Linked DNA regions of Homo sapiens. The protein of the gene in region 1 interacts with the protein of each later gene in a biochemical or structural test. Each region holds a gene or a part of one and is shown in the gene's direction. Other genes may lie near its edges. The genes, in order: LIMK2, NF1 and ROCK1.

Evidence for each region.
Region 2: the proteins of LIMK2 (region 1) and NF1 form a complex in vitro, tested with the Homo sapiens proteins (one study listed by BioGRID).
Region 3: of the proteins of LIMK2 (region 1) and ROCK1, one has a biochemical effect on the other in vitro, tested with the Homo sapiens proteins (2 studies listed by BioGRID).

Annotation. Positions count from the first base shown.
Region 1 is NC_000022.11:31,257,274-31,261,025, forward strand, and holds part of LIMK2 (LIM domain kinase 2), read left to right. Parts: intron 1-1,017; coding exon 1,018-1,153; intron 1,154-1,847; coding exon 1,848-1,957; intron 1,958-2,615; coding exon 2,616-2,804; intron 2,805-3,752. UniProt on the Homo sapiens protein: Serine/threonine-protein kinase that plays an essential role in the regulation of actin filament dynamics. Acts downstream of several Rho family GTPase signal transduction pathways.
Region 2 is NC_000017.11:31,097,935-31,101,686, forward strand, and holds part of NF1 (neurofibromin), read left to right. Parts: intron 1-3,752. UniProt on the Homo sapiens protein: Stimulates the GTPase activity of Ras. NF1 shows greater affinity for Ras GAP, but lower specific activity. May be a regulator of Ras activity.
Region 3 is NC_000018.10:21,105,064-21,108,815, reverse strand, and holds part of ROCK1 (rho-associated protein kinase 1), read left to right. Parts: intron 1-3,752. UniProt on the Homo sapiens protein: Protein kinase which is a key regulator of the actin cytoskeleton and cell polarity.

The DNA of each region.
Region 1 (3,752 bases):
TTCAAATATATAGAAAAGTTGAAAATGTAGTTCAAAGAACACCTACATACCTTTCACATAGATTCATGATTTGTTAATGTTATGCCACTTTGTATATATCTCTCTCCCTCTATCTGTATACTTTTATTTATTTATTTTTGCTGAACTATTTCAGAGTAACTTAAAGGCATCTTGATTTTACCCTTGAACAGTTCAATATGTTTCTGCTAAGAATTCTCCTATATAAGTCAGATATCATTACATCTAAGAAAATTCACGGCAATTTTACAATATAATATTATAGTCCAAATCCATATTTCCTCAGTTGTTCCAAAAAATGTTCATGGCTGTTTCCTTTTTTAATCTAAATTTGAATCCAAGTTTGAGGCATTGTATTTGGTTGCTGTGTCTCTAGGGTTTTTAAAATCTGTGCCTTTTCTTCTCCCCATGACTTTTTAGAAGAGTCAAGACCGGTTATTCTTATAGAATAACCCACATTCTAGATTTGCCTGATTAGTTTTTTTATACTTAACGTATTTTTGGCAAGAACATTACATTGGTAACGCTGTTGGTGATGGGTCAGTTTTGAAGAGTGGAGATGATTAAACTGCTTTTGTTCATTGAAGTATCTGTCAAGACCAGAGATCCTTAACTGGTGCCATAAATAGGTTTCAGAGAATCCTTTATATATACACCCTGTCCCCCACCTAAATTATATACACATCTTCTTTATATATTCATTTTTCTAGGGGAGGCTTCTTGGCTTTTATCAAATTCTCAGAGGGCCCCAAGACCCAAAGAGGTTATGAAACACTAGTCTGTCCACTGAGGCAGGCAACACAGAGCTGGTTTCTGGGGCCTTGTTCAGTCTGAACCAGCTTCCCTTGGGGAGATAGCACAAGGCTGTAACTTTGCCCCATCTTGGCTTTGGATCAAAGAGGACTGTCCATTTTGTTGTCATACCTAGGAACCAGGGACAGCTTATGTGGCCTGGTTCCAGGGATCCAGGAGAATTTCAGTTCTTGTCTTGCCTTTCAGGTGTTCAGAATGCCAGGATTCCCTCACCAACTGGTACTATGAGAAGGATGGGAAGCTCTACTGCCCCAAGGACTACTGGGGGAAGTTTGGGGAGTTCTGTCATGGGTGCTCCCTGCTGATGACAGGGCCTTTTATGGTGAGTGAATCCCTTCATATCTGCCCCTCTTGGTCTTCAGAGTCCATTGACAGTGCTTCCAGTTCCCTGTGGCCTGTTAATCTTTTAGTCTTTCCATCAGCCAGGGCATCTCCCTTTATTTATTCATTCATTCAACTAGCAGGTATCAATTGAGCACCTACTAAGTGAAAGGTAAGATCCTTCCCTCAAAGACTTAATAGTTGAACGTTGGGAGTGGGAGGAGAGGCAGGCAGAGAGGAGACACAATATAGTTGGATAAGGACCTCCAAGGAGAGTGTTACAGGCTGAGAGGAGGATATACTTAGGTTGTCTTTAGGGAATCAGAAAAGGAGACTCTGGAATAGGCTGGCAGAGAGAGGGGCTACCTCCTATACCTGCTCTGGACAAACGACTTTAAGCATAGTGACAGACTTGCCAACCCTGTATTGGAAGAACTGATCTTTTTTAGTGGGGATGATTACTTCTGGGGATTTCTTCTCATAACTGAGACCAAAACAGTTTTGTGCAGTCTCAGAAATGACAGGAGGTACCAATCTGACACTTCCTTTGGAAGCTCTAGGGCAGAGAGTGAAAGAGTGGATTTTGACGGGGGCCTTGCTTGGAGGTCATTCACCCACCCCTGTCCTCACTCCAGCAACAGTGATAACTCACTTCCTTCCTCCCTTTGTACACCCTTCTCCCCACCTGCTCACAGGTGGCTGGGGAGTTCAAGTACCACCCAGAGTGCTTTGCCTGTATGAGCTGCAAGGTGATCATTGAGGATGGGGATGCATATGCACTGGTGCAGCATGCCACCCTCTACTGGTAAGATAGTGGTCCTTTGTCTATCCTCTCCCATATAAGAGTGGCTGGCGGGGAGGGACAGTGGCAGGGTGAGTTGGGCAGAAGGAGTGTTAGGGTAGTCAGAGCATTGGATTCTTACCACAGCAGTGCTCTTAACCAGCTCTTTAACTTGTAAGCAGAATGATTTACACATGTCTCTACCCTTTTTCCTTACCAACCTTGAAAATGTCTTCACTCTGCCCTGCAATCCTCCCAGTGGGAGGCACTCTTCAAGGACGATCCCAGAACATTAAAGTCAAAGACCCCTTAGAGCTCACCCTGTCCAACCACCTTGGTTGATAAAAGAAGTCAGCCTGGGGCCCATGGAATAGAATAGTACAAGGGCAAGGTTCTCATTGTGAGTCAAAGGTAGAGTGAAGAGAACCCAGACCATCTCACCCCAACCCAGGCCAGTGTTTTTCCAAATATACCACTTGCTGCAGATCTAGCTCAGCACCCCCAGTCCCAGCCCACCCTGAGAACCCAGGCTCCTCATTCTGAGCAGCCAGCTAGAATCATGACAAAGAGGGTGGTAGTGAGACTATGGGTACTGTTGCTTAAAGCCACATGGTGCAGTGGTTGCTGGGGGGCTTCTGTGTGGGACTCTAGCATCTTATTCCCCCCTGTGCCCTCTCCCCAGTGGGAAGTGCCACAATGAGGTGGTGCTGGCACCCATGTTTGAGAGACTCTCCACAGAGTCTGTTCAGGAGCAGCTGCCCTACTCTGTCACGCTCATCTCCATGCCGGCCACCACTGAAGGCAGGCGGGGCTTCTCCGTGTCCGTGGAGAGTGCCTGCTCCAACTACGCCACCACTGTGCAAGTGAAAGAGTAAGTATTTTGAGAACCCTTCAGCAGGGGTTCTTGAGCAGAGTCTGTAAATGGGCCTCAGAGGGCTTAGACCTCCAAAGTCTCATGCAGAACTCCCTTTATTCTCATCTCATATCTTTCTCCTGGACCCCACTATGCTGTAACCGTACCTGGGCCTTGGCACTTACTGTTCTCTCTGCCCAGGCTACTTCCTACCCGATACTTAAGGCAAGAATCACTCACCTTTCAGGTGTCAGGTTTCAGGTCATGTTTGCTCTTTGAAATCATCTGGCTTGATTATGTGTATTAGTTGTTTATCTTCTATCCCCTCCACTAGAATGTAAATTCCAGAAGAAACTTGCTGTCTTATTCAGTGCTGCATGCCCAGGGCTTGGAAGAGTACCTGGCATATAGTAGGAGTTGATTGATTATTATTTTGTCAGTCGAGAGAATGAATGGAGAAAATGTGGTCCATGGCCCAAAAGAAGTTAAGACCCTATCCTAGATTCAGGCCAGAGACCAGATGGAGAAAGAGTCTGTGTCTATCTAATACCAGTAATGTCGTACCTCTGGCCGCTTACCATGTAAATATTGATTGTGTATCTACCATGTGTTGGACACTAGGCTAGTGCTTGCACAGCAGGTGAAAGATACTAGAGTTTGGGAAGTCAGGAGGAGCTAAGGTCTGTTCTACAACCTTATTAGATGAAGAGGAGAGGGAATTGTGTTCAGGGCAGAGGGAGAAGCATTTCTCCAAAAGTAGGAGTCTTAATCATGTCTGATGTAGGTTGAGTGTGGCCAGAAAAGGGGCTGTTAAGTATAGAGGGCCTGGATTATGAAAATCCAGCAGATCCATTGAGAGTTTAAGCAGCAAGGTGTTGTGACCAAGTTAACATTTTAGAAGGATCACTGGTATGGAGGTTGGATTGGAGAGGGGAAAGCCTAAAGGTATAGAGACTAGTTAGGAAG
Region 2 (3,752 bases), on another chromosome or scaffold:
TGATCTGCCCCCCACCCCCTGCTCGGCCTCCCGAAGTGCTGGGATTACAGGCATGAGCCACTGTGCCTGGCCTATTCCTCACATTTTTCTCTTAGAAAGTTAAAGTCTCTGACCTTGAGATACAAAAATGTAAGGGTTTTCAGTGTTTAACATAAGGTACTTATATATATTATATATAGTATATATATAAAATAAATTAATATATTAATTTATTATATAAGTGATAAATGTTTAATTCAAATTAGAGTTCACCTTACGGTTGAAAATGTCTTTTAGTCAGAAAACTGAGGCATGGGAAGGTTAAGTGACATAGATCTAATAAGAGCTTCAGTATGAAAAGTAGTGAATGCTTGACCATCAGGGAGATACTTTTCCTAAGTATCCCATAAAATTTGTTCTAATCCATTAAATATATTTAGAAGACTTTATTTTATTTTTTTTATTTTTGAGACGGAGTTTCATGATTCTTGCCTAGGCTGGAGTGCAATGATGCGACCTTGGCTTACTGCAACCTCTGCCTCCTGGGTTCAAGTGATTCTCCTGCCTCAGCCTCCCAAGTGGCTGGGATTACAGGCGCCTGCCACCACTCCTGGATAACATTTGTTATTTTTAGTAGAGTGCTGAGATTACAGGCGTGAGCCATCGCTTACATTTTTATTGAGGGGAGAAAAAGCCCTGCATGTACTGAGAGATAGTTGTATAAGAATCTTAAGAGTTGGCCGGGCGCGGCGGCTCACGCCTGTGATCCCAGCACTTTGGGAGGCCGAGGCGGGCCGATCATGAGGTCAGGAGATCGAGACCATCCTGGCTAACACAGTGAAACCCCATCTCTACTAAAAATACAAAAATTAGCTGGGTGTGGTGGTGGGTGCCTGTAGTCCCAGCTACTTGGGAGGCTGAGGCAGGAGAATGGCCTGAACCTGGGAGGTGGAGCTTGCGGTGAGCCGAGATTGCGCCACTGCACTCCAGCCTGGGTGACAGAGCGAGACTCCATCTCAGAAAAAAAAAAAAAAAAAAAGAATCTTAATAGTTTCAACTGTTTATAAAACTTTTGAATTTTGGATTATATTATCTGTACTTTGCTTTACTGGGCCCAGGGGGAGTTAAGCTTTCCTTCTTATTACAGCTAAGAGTTTGCCTGTTGGACCACTTAACGCCCCCAGGGAGCATGTGCATGTCTAAAGATGGCAACTCTGTTTATGATTGCTGTTTTGGTTGGATTTCTAATATTCGGTGTGATTAAAGCAGAAATGCATTTCTAGCCACTGCTGATTACAGACATATTGCACTCTGATGGGTATCGCTTAGCAACTTAGTGCAGTAGACTCAGTTAAAAGAAGTGGATGTGTGCCATATTGACATTTTGAGCTCACATTCTTGTGGGTAATATAAAATTCCTTAACCTGATAATATTGCAGCTAAACCTAGTATTTAGGGTCTAAGTTGAATGAGTATTACCAATTTTAGAAGTAATCACCTCCTTGGTTAGGGAAATGACAGTTGCACAGGTGGACAGCCAGAAAGCTGAATGTTATCAGTTAAATCTTACATCTCTCCTTAACCTGCCTTCGTGGTGCCAAATAGCAAGTTTCTAATTGAAACTGACAAATTGTAGGTGTGTAGCTTTTTTTTTTTTTTTTTTGAGACAGAGTTTCGCTCTTGTCTCCTAGGCTGGAGTGCAATGGGGAGATCTCAGCATACTGCAACCTCTGCCTCCTGGGTTCAAGCCATTCTCCTGCCTCAGCCTCCCAAGTAGCTGGGATTACAGGCGCCCACCACCACGCCTGCCTAATTTTTGTATTTTTAGTAGAGACGGGGGTTTCACCGTGTTGGCCAGGCTGGTCTCCAACTCCTGGCTTCAGGTGATCCACCTGCCTTGGCCTCCCAAAGTGCTGGGATTACAGGCGTGAGCCACCACGCCCGGCCATGTGTAGCTTTTAATTGTGGTTCATTAACCCAGTTTCTAAGCAAATTAGAACCTTCTGTGTATCTCCCCTAGTTCTGTATGCCCCACTGGTTCCTGTAGAGCTTTATTTCTGAAGGGAAGTATGGGAAAACTATGGATATTTGAACTAAAAAAAAAAAAAAAAGAATTAAAAAGAACTCCATCCCAAAATGATTTGTTGTAAATATGTTCATTTAAAGCAATTATATTTTCCATATCTGATCAAGCAAAAGTAGTACATAAAAGCCAAAAAACCCAATTTAAAGAATATGTTATGGAATAAACTCTGATTTTAGAGGTTGTAGTAGCATATTTGTTGTTCTCATACATTGAGTGTTCATCTGAATGTACGTTGAATATGCGGTGAGTGATTCACAGTATAAAATGATTGGCAAGTATCTTCGAAATTACAAACCACATACTGATTAGACAAATAGATTTGCAAAACTGAAGCTTTTTGGATTTAAAAAATATCTCCTAGCCTCATTCTTCAAGCCTGGTGTGTAATTTTTATAAGGCCTTATAGTAGTTGAAAATGAGTACTCTTTTATGGTGACGAATTCTTTATGGTGAGTGAGAAATAATGCTTATTCTTCCAATTTTAGTATATGTGGTGCTGAATCGAGCACAATAATGCTTATTCTTTGCTTCGGAATTTTTTAATTTATTATTATTGTTATTTTAAATTTTTATTTATTTATTTATTTTGAGATGGAGTCTCACTCTGTCGCCCAGGCTGGAGTGCAGTGGCGCGATCTCAGCTCACTGCAACGTCTGCCTCCTGGGTTCAAGCGATTCTCCTGCCTCAGCCTCCCAAGTAGCTGGGACTACAGGCGCATGCCACCACGCCCAGCTAATTTTGTATTTTTAGTAGAGACAGGGTTTCACCGTGCTAGCCAGGATGGGTCTGAATTTCTTGATGTCGTGATCCACCTGCCTTGACTTCCCAAAGTGCTGGGATTACAGGCATGAGCCACCGTGCCCGGCCCGGAATTCATCCTTTAGAAAGATTTCTTCCAGCTGTTCCTCAGTTCTCTGCACTCCCTTACACTTTCCACCTTATCTGTCTGGGAACTAATTTAGTCTTTATGTTGGCTGCTTTCTTTTCACTTTTCAGGCTAAGATTTCCTTTCTCTTGGAAATCAGACGTTTACTTGGTCCTGCAGCTCTCTCTCTGTGGACCAGTCTTTTTTGTTGTTGTTGTTGCCAGATACTCACCGCCTCTACTGTTTATCCACCCATTTCCTTTATAACTCTGAAAAGTAGCTCCTGCCTCTGCTTGATTGCTGTTTTCTTGAAAGTGATTACTTCTGGCAAAACATAGTGGTCATTGCTTAGTTGTAATGCCACTGTGATGTTCCACTCCCCCCGGAAACCAATCTCTTCCAGTTCCCAAGACACAATACTTTTCTACTGAATTGGAGTTCCTTAGCGGGGGTCTTAGTTTTGTTCTGCTATTCAGTGCCTTTGTCCCTATCCTAGCCATTAGCTTTCCTATAGATCCTTGATTTCCTCATCTGTTGAAAAAGAAATGGCTAGAAAATCTTTTAGATTCTTTCAAGTTTAAATATTCGATGATTTTAATATTCTAACAGCATGTCTCTGTGACCCAGCAGTCTATTGGGAGCTGACCCCACTTGATTTACCAAACTCTTTCCCATTATGCCTCTGCATGCACCTATGTTCCAGGCAGGTCACCTCAGTCTCTTCTGTGTGTATCATGCTTCTTCCCACTTCTTGGCCTTTATTTCTGCCAGTCTCTGCCTGAATGCTTTAATTCCTCCTTTGTGCTTTTCTAATTCCTGTC
Region 3 (3,752 bases), on another chromosome or scaffold:
CTGGTGTGTGGAAGATGGGTTAGCATGGGAAAAGATTGGAGAGACAGTGAGATTGGACAGTTTTTTAAAATTGTTATTATTGTAATAGTCCAGAAATGATTGAAGCCCAAAATTGGGGCATGAGAATGAGAAAAGAAGAATTAATGGAACTTTATTGGCAGGGAAAAGATGGGGAACCAAAGAGAGAGGCAATAGTCAGATGACTCTAAAGAGGTTGAGCCTGGATTATAGGGAGAATGGTAAAAATAGCAAAGTCAGGTTTGGAAATTGCTTGTGAAGAATAGGCCTACAGATAAATTCAATTTTAGATTCGTTGTGTTTGAGGGGATAGTGGAGCAATCATGAGAAAATGACCTGTAGACTGTTGGAGATACAGAACTGAGCTCATAATTACAGATAATGATTTAGAAGTCATTTGCACAAAGGTGCAAGTTGATATAATGGTAAAGGGAGAAACAATGGAGGGAAAAATGAGGGTGAAAGATGAAGGTTGAACAAAGAGGAAGAGTGGAGGAGGTAAGCCATCAAGGCCTCCAGAGTTAGGACAGCCAGGTATCATGGAGCCCAACACTTCTAAAACAACATTTTGTTAAAGAGAATAGTCAACAGACAGATTTGGTTGTTTTTTCCCCTTCAAATCTTATAATCTTGTCCTCTTTTTCTGTTTAGTTCCACAGCTGTTTATTGATAGCTGTTACTGAAATTTTATTACCCCGTCAATCTGAACTTGGTAAAGACTGAATTTTCCTTTTTTTTTTTCTGAGATGGAATCTCACTCTGTTGCCCAGGCTGGAGTGCAGTGGCGCGATCTTGGCTCACTGCAACCTCCGACTCCTGGGTTCGAGTGATTCTCCTGCCTCAGCCCCCACGAGTAGTTGGGATTACACGCGTGCACTACCACGCCTGGCTAATTTTTGTAGTTTTAGTAGAGATGGGGTTTCACCATGTTGGCCAGGCTGGTCTTGTACTCCTTACCCCAAGGAATCCGCCTGCCTTGGCCTCCCGAAGTACTGGGATTACAGGCGTGAGCCACCGTGCCTGGCCCAAGACTGAATTTCCTTTAGAGACAAAAAATCCTTTTTCTGGGTTTGTAGTATCTAGCATGAATTTTCTTCGCATGATGTTTTATGTTTAACATTGAGCATTCGTTCGTTCATTCATTCATTGTGTCATTCAGGGTGACCTATCAGGTGACTTCAGCTTTTTCAGTGAGTCTGTTCTTGTTCTTCCCTATCTGGACTTTGGACCTCTCATGTATTATAGGAACAAAACTCCTTTTACATTGGTTGCCTTTTTCTGTTATTTTGACTTTTGTTGATTTGTGTAACTGATACTTACTTATTAGTGTGTATTATGTGCCACGTGCAGTCCTTTAGTTCTAGAGTTGTTTTTGTAATCCCAAAAATAAGGTTTTCAAATTGTTTCTTCTCTACCTCCTTTACTAGATTCATGCTTAGAAATGGAAACTTCCAAATCTTTTGGTTTCAGAAATTTGCTGGTGTATGTCCTTTTAAACTACCTTACCTACTAAACAGCTTTTTTGTTGAGACACTAATGATGAATAGCATCCGTAATCTGAAATTTGAAGTGCTCAAAATCTGAAACTTTTTGAGTGCTGACATGACGCCATAAGTGGAAAATCCACCTGACCTTGTGAGATGGGTTGCAGTCAAAATGCAGTCAGAACTTTGTTTCATGCACAAAATTATTAAAATATTGCAAAAAATAACCTTCAGGTTGTTGTGTATAAGGTATGTATGAGACGTAAATGAATTTCTTATTTAGACTTGGTCCCCATCCCCAGGGTATCTTATGTATATGCAAATATTTTAAAATCTGAAAAAGTCTGCAGTCTGAAACACTTCTAGTTCCAAGCATTTTAAACAAGGGATACTCAACCTGCAGTAGTTTAGAATAATGTAGCTGGAAGAACTCTGATAAGTGGCTATCCAATCTTTTCTCGAACACCTGTAATTTTTTTCAAGAACTAAGTAAGTTCAATCTTCATATCATGTATAAATGCTAAAATAGTCTGCAAATACTAAGATACATTATGATAACCATTCACTTGTTTCCTAGAGCATTCAAATTAGTCAACTTTGGTTTTCTGTAGGTCAGATTCTTTCCAGTGTCCTAATGGTTGTCTTTCTTACTGTCCATGTTACAGTTTATAAGGATTATCGGGAGCTATTTCTCTTTTCCGGACTTCCTTATCTTCTAATTATTTTGTCTAGGGCCTGTAATAATTTCTCAGTGATTTTGAGTACCTTTGAAAACAGAATAAGGGATGGAGTTTAGTTAAGTCTATTTAATCTTTGCAGAGGAAAAAATGCTTATGATTTGTAAATTAAATAGGAAAAACAAGGCCGGGTGCAGTGGCTCGCTCCTGGAGGGCTGAGGCCAGAGAATTGCTTGAGCCTAGGACGGGGAGGTTGCAGTGAGCCGAGATTGTGCCACTGCACTCCAGCCTGGACGACACAGTGAGAACTTGTCTCAAAAAAAAGGAAAAACAAAAATGGTTGGGAGGGTTATAGATACATTTGTTTTGAAGTTTGACATACTTTTCATGAAAATATCTTGCTTGTAGCATATTTATTGGCACATCGCTTCATGATGCCTGTTAAGAACATGACCTTTCCACTTCTCTTCTGGCTGGTGGAGGTGTAGCAACGGGTGAGCGGAGGAGACAGAAGGGAACCAGTATTAGTCAAATAGTGCCTGTTGAGTTCTAACACTGTGCTGTTTGTCACTACTATTTCTTATTAGGGAGTTTTTCAGAATGTGGAAGATAAATGTAAATGAAATTTCTGGTGTTAGTCTTTGAGTTTTTCTTCCTTTAAATTATCTTCCTGGGCTCTCTTGACCTAGTGCTTTCCCATCTTTTCATTCTTCTTTTTTTCTTTTCCTCAATCTTTGGCCTATCATACTTATCTTTGTCTTCACTCTCTTGAAGAATTCATCCATTCTTACAGCTTCAATTATTATTATCTCTATGTACATGATACCCAAATCTTTATTTTTAGTCTTTTGTTTCAAACCTTAAATATCTGACTGCCTTGTAAGCATTTCTACTTGGATGTCATGTTAGTCTCAAATCCCTCATATTCCAAAACAAGCTTCCTCCCATAAACTTATCTGTTTTGTCATTAATTCCACTATTGTCCCTGTCGCTAAACTGAAATTTTTGTTGTGAACTTTTTTGACAGTGTTAGTCCACACATTGGGTTATTACAGCAGATTTTGGGTAGCATTTTCGAATCTGGATTATTGCTGTCTAATCCCCTGTATGCCTTGCCAGTTGAATTGATCTGTTTTGGGGGTATATTACTCTTGGAATGAAAAGACCTGAGGTCATTAAATCTTTGAGCCTTAAAGTTGTATCTCTGCCAGTGTTCCTAGTTTGTGAGTTAATAGGTGTTATTAGTATCAATTGCATATCTGGTTAGTTTGGACCAGACTTTTTTGGATGTTAGTATGTTGCAGGAACTTCTTTTAAAAAAACAAGTTACTCTCCTAATTCATTTTTATTCATTCAGCAAATCTTTGTATAGGGCCTAAACTTGGATTGAAATCTAGGCTCTGACATGTATTTGCTGAAATATTTTAGGGAGTTATTTTAACCTCTCAATGCTGTTTCATCTTCAGAAAAATAAGAGGGGATAAAAGTACTAGATTGTTGTAAGAATTGAATAATATAGTCAAAGCAACTATCATAGCATTTGGTATTTAGTAAGCATTTGTAATATTGTCAT